Regions from separate parts of the Homo sapiens genome. Here region 2 is linked to region 1. A link means that fine-mapping ties the variant in region 1 to the expression of a gene that starts in the linked region. Tissue or cell type: testis. Region 1 holds a variant in brackets; the other region holds the start of a gene. All regions are shown on one strand. Distances are between the middles of the regions.

Region 1 (5,371 bases):
CTGGCATCCCTGGGCCCTGCCTGTCATCGCCTGCGCCCGCCTCTTCCCTTGAAGTCGGTGTCCAGATACGGAGCGGTGGCTTGGTGATGGGTAGAGAGGAGGCTGTGGAAGGGCCGGGCTTGGCAGCAGCTGGCTGGAGCTGCAGAGTGTCCCTGGGCGTCCTTTCCCTGCCTTTCTTCCGCAGGTGCTCCCTCGGGCTCCTCTGGGGCACATCCTTTGCTACATCCGGGTCCGCCCCTTTGGCCTGTCCGTTTCTGTGGTTCCAGCTTCCTTGCCTCCCTGCGGCCGCCCTCCCCTCATTTGTTGAACCCAGCGGGTTGGGGGATGGAGGGTAGAGACGTAGCGCAGGGAGACAGGCCTGACCTGGGACCACGTAAGGAGGCCCTCGGTTGGCCAACTTCAGGGCCACAGGAAGTGGCCGAGGGCCCAGTCTGGGCAGGGCATGGGCACAACACCCAACTGAAGAGGAGTATGAGGCCAGGCCGGGCCTGTCAGCTGCCTGGGGTCTGGAGCTGGGTGTGTGGATAGAGGCCCAGGGGAGTGCTTCCAGCAATGGCTACCAAGTTCTTCCCATGCACCAGCTCCTCCAGCATGCACCTCGGCCTGCAGACCAGGGCATGGCACCCCAAGTCAAAGGCCGGGAACTGCTGCTGCCGAGAGGCCCAGCACTGTGCTCAAGGCCACGGTCTGGCAGTGATGTGGAGCACAGGCCTGGAAGTGGAACTGCCTGACCTCAGCTCCTGTTTCTTTTCCATGCCCTTTGCTCCCCTCAGGTACCTGGGAGACCCCCACGCATGGTTCCTCAGGCTCCGTCTCAGGAGTGTGGGAGTAGGGCTGGCACAGGAAAATCCACCTTGCACTCTTATGGCACATACAGGGCACAGGTAACTCCAAGTGCACGGGGCTTATGGGGCAGGGTGTGGAGTCAGCAGCAGGCTCTGTGGCTGGGTGCCCAGCTCCAATCCTGGCTTTGCAGATCTCAGGCTGGTGGCTTTGGGCAGGCCACATCACCTTTCTGAGCCATCTCCTCTTCTGTAGACTGGGGGTGTTGGTGGGACCCACCTCTGTGCCGTGGTGGGGGATGATGCTTGGGAAAGGGCAGCTGTACTACTGACTGGGACGATGCTGGTGAGGGGACCATGGACCTGAGAGACACTGGCCACCCACAAACCCCAGTATCCTAAGCCATGGGCGCTGTCATGTGTCCTGAAGTTGTCCTTAATTCAGTGCGCCTTGTCCTGTGCACTGATGCAGAGCCCTGTCCCTGCCAGGAGGGTTGACTGCCCCCCCGCCAACCAGTAAGCTGAGGGCTTTGTCTGATTCACTCTTGGCCTTCTGTCCCCTTCTGGCCACCCCCCAACCCCTTATTACCCTGCCCACATCCTAGGATGTCCAGGCAGCAACATGACTTTGTGACAACACCTAGAGGGAGAGAGACCTGGACCTCAGATCTGCCACACACTGTGAAGCCTGGGAAGGTCTCTTTACCTTTTTGAGCTTCAGTGTCCTGGCCAAGAACACAGGTAGCAATGTGTTTCCCAAGGCTGGGAAGTGGTGCTGTTTCAGCAATTGGTCATTTTCAGGCCAGTATGTGGGTCCCTCTTAAGGTGCAATGACATTGAGACAGTTGAGGGAGCTGAGCTGGGGGCTGGTCATCTTGATGGACAGCTGGGTAGAAGGATGGGTGGATAGATGGGTGGGTAGATGAATGGGTGTATGTTTGGATGGATGGATGGATAGGTGGGTAGATGGATGGATGGAGAGGTGGGTAGATGGATGGATGGTTGAATGGATGGATGGATGGATGGATGGTTGGATGATGGGTGGATAGGTGGACGGATGGATGGATGGACAGATGGATAGGTGGATGGATGGATGGATGAGTGGGCTCATGGATGGATGGATGGATAGATGAATTGATGGGTAGATGGGTGGATGGATAGGTGGGTGGATGGATGGATGAGTGGGTGGATGGATGGATGGATGGATGGATGGATGGATGGATGGTTGCATTAATGGATTTTCATCCCAACATTTAACTGATGACCCAGAGGGGTAACCGAGGGGACTCATCCTTGGCTTGTCCTTTATACTTCCCTCCTCTCCCCTATCCAGTTACTCCTAGGTTCTGAGGATTCCACCTTCTGGTTTTGACTCTGTTCCATCTTACCCTCCCTTCTCTACCCTCCCCTAGGCCCCTGCCCATCTTTCATGGACACGTTAGTCTTCCGCCTGTCTGGCATCCTTGTCTCAGATCTCTTTTCTACCCATCCTCTTGTCTGGCTTCCTGAGTGCTCTCTCCAACAACACACTGCTAAACATGTCACTCTCCTGCTCTAAACTCCTGTCTTCCC[T/C]GCTGTCTAGGGGTGGTGTCTAAACTCCTTCATAATTTGCAGGACTGTCTCATCCCAATCTGTCTCCCTTCCCATTCCCTGTCCCTTGCTCCCTGCTCCCTCCTTTGGATACTTGGTACTTACCATTTCATTTAAGCTCCCGTTTTTCTCTGGGTTCTCCCTTAATCCCTTGCCTCTCACCCCCTGGTCTGCCGAGGGGTTTCCCACCCCACATTCAGGACCTGAATGAGGTATAGCCTTCTACATGAAGCCTTCAAATCCCTATCTAATCAGTCCCTTAGCACAGATCAATGTCTTTCTCTTCCATGAGACCTTTGATGGTGGGTCCAGAATTTTTTAAATTAGTAATAGCCACAAGAATATACAAGTAAGACTATCTGGTGAAGACTATATGTCTGGCATTCGCCAGGCCCCAGGCTATGTAGTTTCCAGGCATCACCTTAATTTTAAGGCTTTCAAATATCTCCATGGAGTCCATGGCATCATCTTATCCTTACAAAATAATTTAAGGTACCAAGAAGAGAAACAGCCGAGATCCCTCAGCTCAAGATGGACAAAGCATGAATCACACCCATGCCTGGCTGACTCTGGAGCTTAAGTTGAGTCTCCTGCCTCTCTCCCTTTGAACCTGGCTCCAGAGCCAGCCCAGAGCAGTTATTCAATAAACAGTCATGCTAGCTCAGGACAGAGCCCCTTGAAAGACACAGGTTCTCTCTGGACCCTGCCCCAGGGTGGACTCAGCCCCTGCATGCCACAGCCCAAAGTATGCACAAGCCAAATGCCCCTGAGGATGGGAGGTTGGAGGACCAGGATATGGAAACAACCTCTCTCTCTCTCCCAGCTCCAGAGACACAAGATCAAGTGCTGCTTCCTATCAGCTGGAGTCACTGCCCTGCTTGTCATCATCATCATCATCGCCACCTCTGTCCGAAAGTGATGCTACCCGTGGTGAGTACCCCACCTACCCGTACACCATCCATTCATCTGCACATCCACCATCCATTCATTCACCTATCCACCATCCATCTAACCATCCACCATCCATCCATCTATCCATCCACCCATTTATCCACCTGTCTACCGTCCATCTGTCCATCCATCTACCCATCCACCATCCATCCATCCATCTATCCATCTGCCATCCATCCATCCACCCATCCACCATCCATCCATTCATCCATCCATCATCCATCCATCCACCCACCATCCACCCTTCTATCCACCCATTCACCATCTGTCCATCCATCCACCCTCCATTCATCCATCCACCTTCCACCCATCTATCCACCCACCATCCATTTATCCATCCATCCTTCCATCCATCCATCCATTCATCCATCCATCCACCCACCCACCATTTATCCATCTATCCACTCATCCACCCATCCATCCATCCATCCATCAACTCATCCACCCATCTATCCACCATCTGTCCATCCATCTACCTTCCATTCATCACCCATCTATCCATCCATCCACAATCTGTTCACACATCCACCTAGCTACCATCCACCCATGCACCTGTACACCATCTGTTCGTCCATTATCCACCCATCCACCATTCATCCTTCCACCCATCCATTCATCTATCACCTATCCACCCATCATCCATCTTTCCATCCTTCCTTCCTTGCATCCATTCATTCTTCCTTCCTTCATCATCCTCTATGTGTTTGTTGAGCATCTCCTTTGTGTTAGGCATGGGATGGGCTCTAGGGACCCAGTGGTGCACATGGCAGAGGGGTGCCCTGTGTTCTTGCAACTCAGAGCCACTGGGGCAAGGCCACCCTGAAGCCTCTCTTTTCCTAGGCACTGACCTCCAGAAGTTTATGACTGGCAATTTCTCTGGGGCTAGCAGTCAGTGCACAGAACATGTTGGGCCATGTGGTGAGTGTGCATTCGGACCGGAGAGGAGAGGAATGAGGCGTCAGTGAGGAGAGCTCATCAGGAAGCTTCACCAGCTCCTGTAGGCAGGGAGGAATGGGTACTGAGACACATGGCTGGCACTGGAGCATGGCTGTCCCCAGGGCACAGGGCCCTGGGCTGCAGCCGGGCAGGGCTGGGACAGAACATGGGAAGGCCCTTAGTGTCCGTGGAGCCTCTGAAACATGTTAAGCAGGTATATCCATTACTGGTACTGCATGCCAAGTTAGCTTAAAGCTTAGTGGCTGAAACCAAATCAATGTTTGTTATCTCACAGTTTCTGTGAGTCAAGATTTGGAAGCGGCTTAGCTGGGTGGCTCTGGCTCTGGGTCTCTTGTGAGACTGTAGGTAGATGTTGGCCATTGCTGCATCATCTGAAGACTCAACTGCGGCTGAAGGATCCATTCAAAGCTGGATCTGCGTGTGGCTGACACTGGTGCTGGTTGCTGGTGGAATGGAGGCTCAGTGCCTCTCCATGTAAACTCCGGGAAGGCTGGCAAGGGAACAGGGTGGATGCCACCCTTGCTCAGTTCTGCAGTACTCGGCTGCTCACTCAAGGCTGCCCTACTTGAGTCTTACTGAGCACTGGAGACTCCCATGGTTGGTCTACTGTGTGCCAGGCCATGTGTTGTACATCCATTATCTAAATTTATCCTGTAGCCTCCTGAGGAATGCGGAGGCAGAGCCCAGCCTTCAGGGCCAGCATGGCCAGGACAGCATGGACTGAACAGGTCTTGGATTTGTGTGAAGACACACTGTGAACCTTCCAGATGTTGTTTCGCATCCCTGGGGTCTCCCCAGTCAGCTCGTCCCGCAACAGCAGGGCTTCTGTGTGTTCACATTAGGCAGGGCATGTGAAGACCCCAGGTGGCCTTACCTCATTTGGGTCAGCCGAGGTCTTGCTACTAAAATCCTGGATGGCAAAGAGAACTCCTGGTATCCAGAGCTGCTGGTGTTGGGGTTGTGGGCAGAATGGGGGGCCTGGCTGTCACTGGGGTTATGGGCAGGAATGGGGGCCTGGCTGCCATTGTGGTTGTGGGTGCAGTGGAGGTCCTGGCTGCCACTGGGGTTGTGGGCAGGTTGGGGCTCCTGGC
Region 2 (5,371 bases), 170 kb before region 1:
CTGGCTTCAGTTACAGAAAACCTGACGAAATCCAATGAGGCAGACCCATAAAGGGAGCAGGGGCTTGTTCTCCCCATGGTGATGAGTCTGACGGTGCCATTGGGGCACCAAGGCAGCTGCTCACATCCTCAGCTTGGGACCCTGCCCCTTGCTGGCCACATGGCTGCTGTCCTCGGGATGCCGTGCCCACACTTCAGGCTGGAGCCAGGAGAAAGGAAGACTGTCAGTGAGGTGGGTGGCCACAGCTGCCCCTTCCAAAGGACCAGGAGGCTCGATTGTGCCTCCTGCAGTCATCCCCTGGGCAAACAGTGTCACAGCTGGCCCAGCTGCTGGTGAGGCTGGCTACATTGATGCCTTGAACAAAACTGGGGTTCTGTTGCTAAGGGACAAAGGAGGCCTGGGTAATAGTGAGGGCGGCTCGGCGGGGTTGGTGGGTGCAGGAATCAAGGACTGAGTGCCCGTGGGCTTTGCTGGAGCAGAAGCTGTGCTGGGAGCAGAGCAGGAGGTGCACAGGCCTTCTCCTGTCCAGGCAGGGGCTGCAGGGGAGCAAGGGATGGTCTCCTGAGCAGGTGACATTGAAGCCAGGCAGCAGAGGGTAGAGAGGAAGGGTGGGAGGGTGGGGAAACTCACGACAAAGCCATAGGTTGACACTGACCTGGAAATTCAGCTTAAACCCTGAGAAGTCCATGCTACTATTCAGAGAGGGAGCATTTCTGAGGTTGGCTTTAGTGGGTGCTGCCTCAACGTTCCTTCCGAAGGCCTTGGAACCACCCCCTAACCTTGTTGCCCACATTCCCTCTGGGACCTGGAATGGTAGATCCAATTTGGGGGGTGCCAGCTGAGGACCAGGCAACCCCCACCCCCTTAGGTAACAGAACTCAGCGTCCTGGGGCCAATCCCACTTATTCACCCTGTTGGTCTCACTGGTTGGCCAAGGGGTGGGACCAGAGTTCTTCCCAGGGAGTCCTGCTTCTCTGGAGGAAGGAGGGAGCCCAGAGCTGCCCGAGGTCATGTGATGACCTCTTCCAGGGAGGGGCAGAGATGAGGGAAGGGAGGGGAGCCCCGGCCCTAGGCCCAGGCAGCTATTGGCTATTTCCCTCATCCCTTCCTGAGGACCCCTTAGCATCCTCCTCCCCCTCCCCATCGGCTCAGCCTGAGGGAGTGGGCTCCTGGCTCTTCCACGGAGAGGTTTACCTTCCCTGACTTGCTGTGGGGCACTCAGGCGGGCTCATCCCAGATTTCGGAGGAGCCAACAGGTACGGAGCCCCTCCTCTGGTGGTTCCTACCCACGCTAGACCATTCCCCCTGCAGTGTCCAGGCACAGAAACAGCCCCATATACGCCTTGTATGGTCAAGAAAGCGGCTCCTGGAGGTGGTCTGCCCTGGGAGGAAAGGGCTTCACTTTCCCCTCCTTTGCACACCTGAACACGGAGCTGTCAGAGGAGGCTGAGTGAGGTGGCGGCCAGACAGACAGCGCCAGCCACGGAAGGGGAGGTGGGCACCGTGCCAGGCACCCGGCATCCTCAGTCCAGACTGACAGCTCTCAGACAGGCATTGGTCCTGGCGAACCTTCCCCTTCAAGTGGAAGCTGGGGGGTCAGCAGTCATGGGCATCCTCCCTGGTTAGGAGCCGGCTTCCCTGCACTCTAGCTGTCCTAGCCGAAGAGTGAAGCCCTGTCCAAATCATGGCGAGGCTGCAAGACAGGCACACACTACTGCCTCCTGGGAGCCCAGGGGAGACTGAAATACACCAAGGCAAGGAGCGTGGGTGGGCCCAGGACAGGCCGGCCTGAGCACCAGCCCAGGAATGCTGGTGGGCATGTGCCCCTCTTCCCTCCCACCCATGTGTGCACACATTTGTGCCATATACTACCGTTCCCATGTTTGCGCCTGGGCACACACTTGTGCCAGCATACACACACTTGTGCACTTGCACCTGGTGTCCAGGAACACTCCCTCAGCTCACAGACGTGCGCTGTGTGCACACAGTACCACGCAGTGTCCACGAGCACACTTTTGTGTTCGTGTTCACAGAACCCGTGTGCGCACACATGCACAGTCCTGGGCTGCAGAGAACCCCAGCCAGCGGGGCGGTGGGGGAAGGGGAGGGCACGCCTCCTTCCCAGGAGCTCAGCAAGGCTGTCCGCGGGAGCCCAGGGCTGCCCGCAGGGCTTTGGCGTAGGCCTCGCAAGCACAGCAAGCATCACAGAGTGAGGGCGGCGGGAGAACCTCCGCTTGCCGGAGAAGGTGCAGCGGACTCATCACTCTTGCTCTCCTGCCTTGGGTGTGACTCTTGGTTCACCTCTGGGGAAACAGGCTGAAAGGTGACCCTGGCGGCCCAAGGACACACACCCATTGTCCGCAGGTTCCTCCCAGGTGTCTTCTCCAGCAGGTCACCGGGAGAGCGAGGGGCTGGAGTCTTTCGGGAGCTCAGTGCCCGCAGGCAGAGCAGGGAAAGGGAGGCGCCCCAGGCCCCTGCGGAAGGAGGTCCCAGGAGGGTCTCCGCAAGGGGCTCCCTACTCTGCACTTCAGCTCCTCCAGGGAGGGGCTGCGACCTCGGGCAAAGGTCCCTCAGATGTCTTGAGACTCAGTTTCCTCGTTGGTGACACTGGGAGTCCGGAGTCCCCGCGGGGCCTGCCAGCCCCCGGCCGAGCACGGCCCCACGCGGAGCCCGTGCAGCCTGACTTGGGGCCCAACGCCCGTCCCCGCAGCGCGAGACGCGCAGGTGCCCGGCCCTGCCCTGGCCGAGACCCGCCGCCTGCGCAGCCCCGCAGAAGCTCCAGCTTTGGCCCGTGTGAGGTCCGGGCTCGGCCTGGGCTGGGCGGAGCCCGCTCCCGAAGCGCCTCAGCGCCGGGCCGCCGCCCTCCACGTGACCTCCACCTTCGCCGTCATCCCCATATGCAAAACGGGGAAACGGGGAAACGGAGGCCCACCACCAGGCAAGTGAGGACAGCCGACTCGCGCGCGCACCCGCAGAGGCCTCTTGGCCCAGCCGACCGCCGTCCGCGCCGCTTCCGGCTCCGCGCCGGGGCCTCTGGGGCGGGTAGTCCCCGCGCGCGTCCGGGACCGGCGGCCATTGGCTGGTGCGGGAGGGGGCGCGCACGCCGGCGGCGGGAGGGGCCGTCACGTGATGTTTGGGTGCCCGCCCCGCCCGCCTCGCCCGCCGTGAGCGCCCGGAGCGGTCCGCGAGCCACCGAGGCCCAGGTGAGGCGGCGGCGGTGGGGCTGGGGCCTGGCCGGGGCCGGGCGTGGGGCGGCGAGGGCGAGGCGGCCGGGGACCAGCGCGGGGCCCGGAGCCCGGCGGGGGCCGCGGCGTGGCGTGGTATGGGGCTTGCGGGAGGCCGGGCGGGGGGCGGGGCCGCGCCGGTGGGGAGGGGAGGGGGCGGGACCGTGCCGGGGGTGGACCCCAGGGGCGCCAGGGACCCTGAGCCGCAGCCCCGCGAGAGCGCCGCATTTCGGGGACCGGCCCGCGGGCACATGAGCCCCTCGGCGGGTCCTCGCGCGCTGTTCAGACCCCAGGTCGGTGGGCTCTGGGCCGGGCAGCCGGTGCCTGCGCCTGGAGGTCAGTGCCGTCCCGGGGAGCGCCCCAGCGCCTACTTGCTGGGTGCAAGGGTTGGTGCCCTGCAGCTCAACGAGCGGAGCCCGCCTTCGAGCCTGAGCTGGGGACCCCGTTCCTGTGTGCTTGCCTCTCCATGCCTTTCTGTCCCTTCTCCAAGTTGTAAGAAGGTGCTTCCTGGGTACTGGGGCCTGCGACATCCCCACCAGGGACTTTCAGGTGATGTTGATCTGTGCTGCCCCCGCAGAAACTCTCCAGGGACCTCGTGTTTGTTGCCTCATGGCGCACTCCTCCTGCTCTGGAAGCTCTGCCATGTCCAGTGTGGTAGCCCCTAGGCATGTGTGGCTGTTTACATTGTCCTTAACGTGAAGGATTCAGGTCCTCCGTGCCAGTGGTCACATGTCCGACACTCAGTAGCCACACGTGTCTGGTGGCGGCTGTGTGGGGCAGCGCGGGTAGGGAACACTGCTTATCACAGGAAGTTCTGTGAGCGGTGTGGTGCGGCTCAAAATGGGCCTCGCGCGTGCTGCTCCGCCGGTGCTTCTCCGCCCCTCATCCTGCCAGGTGCCTTTCCAGCCACACCTGGCGCCCTTTCTTTCCTCTGCTGCACACTTGCCTCTTCTTTTAGTTCCTGGCTCGCTCCTGGCTTGGGGGCAGCTCCGCTTCCGGTATGTCTGAGCTCACCTTTCTGACCGCTCTCCCTACAGTATTTCTTGTTTGTCATTGTCACTCATCTGCTTGTTTTCTGTTTTATCTTTAGTGCCTGTGAGACAGGGGTGGGGATTGTTGCTTAGGATACTCCCAGTGTGGACACAGTATTGAGTTGAAAGAAAGCTGAAGTTTGTTAGTACTGGAGTGCTTCCCCCGACTGAACCGCTGCTTTCATACCGTTCGACCCCATACATCACAGGACCGCAGCAGAAATCTGGTAGAACAAATGTTTGGACACAGCAGCACAGGCCGTGAATGCAGGTGGCTGTGGGAGGCTGGCAAATCCAAGACGACTTCCTGGAGGAGGTTGAGTTTTGGCTGGGTCACCTCTGTTTCTCTCCTCCTCTGCTGGCCTGGCCCCATGAACATCTGGCAGCCTCTGGCTGCTCTGACTCTATCCAGGAACCTTCCCTGGACACTTCCCCTGAGTCTGGCCTTCTGTAGATGCTGGGTCAAGAGCCTAGACCTAGGCACTCAGTCTAGGGGCTCATGGGCAGCCAGGTGTCCCTAAGTCTCTTCCACAGCTCCTCATGGCCTGCAGAGCGAGGTCCTGGGTTTGGCTCCTGCCAGCAGCTCCTGCCACATCTTCAGTCCCTGCTTTATGTCCCTGACAGTGCAGTCATTTTTCCTGCATAGTCTGTGGCTTTTCTCACTGGTGTGCCTGTCGATGCAGAGCCTTCTGCTTGGAATGCCCTGGCACTCCCGTGTTTGTCTCTCCTGTGTGCCTGGGAGCCTCTGTGGCATAGACCTCTGCTGTGTCACCCTTGTGTCCTGAGCACCCCACCCAGCACCGAGAGTAGGATAAGCACCTAGCAGGTTTTGATGAATAAATACACTGGACACGTAAGACTTTGAGGAGAATGTGGTGAGAAGTACAGCTAGGTCACGATGCTGGAGCTTGAGATGGAATCAGGGAGTCACCTTCCAGGTGGGCGGAGTTGGGGAGTCACCTTCCAGGTGGGGAGGAAAGACAAACATGCCTCGACCATGGCTGTACCAAGCCATTCGCGACACGGCGTGGGTGCATCCTTCCACGGTCCTGAAAAGGGGTGGTGAGTGTCTGCAGGTGGTGACACTAATGATACTGGTCACAGCACCTCCTGGTG

Evidence for each region. PIP is the estimated chance that this variant, and not a neighbour inherited with it, causes the effect.
Region 2: it holds the start of TSNARE1, and the variant in region 1 is fine-mapped to the expression of TSNARE1 in testis (GTEx, PIP above 0.99).

The regions. Positions count from the first base shown.
Region 1 is chr8:142,227,404-142,232,774 of GRCh38, reverse strand. TSNARE1 (t-SNARE domain containing 1) reads left to right here. Exons shown (of 14, transcript NM_145003.5): 13 at 3,196-3,302. The coding sequence ends at 3,291. Among named protein-coding and RNA genes, the nearest start is that of LINC00051, 32 kb to the right of the region's middle. The variant T/C (reference allele first, on the strand shown) is at 2,355.
Region 2 is chr8:142,400,936-142,406,306 of GRCh38, reverse strand. TSNARE1 (t-SNARE domain containing 1) reads left to right here and starts at 3,125. Exons shown (of 14, transcript NM_145003.5): 1 at 3,125-3,203. RefSeq lists silencers at 2,227-2,276, 2,717-3,286, 3,427-3,566 and an enhancer at 2,220-2,995.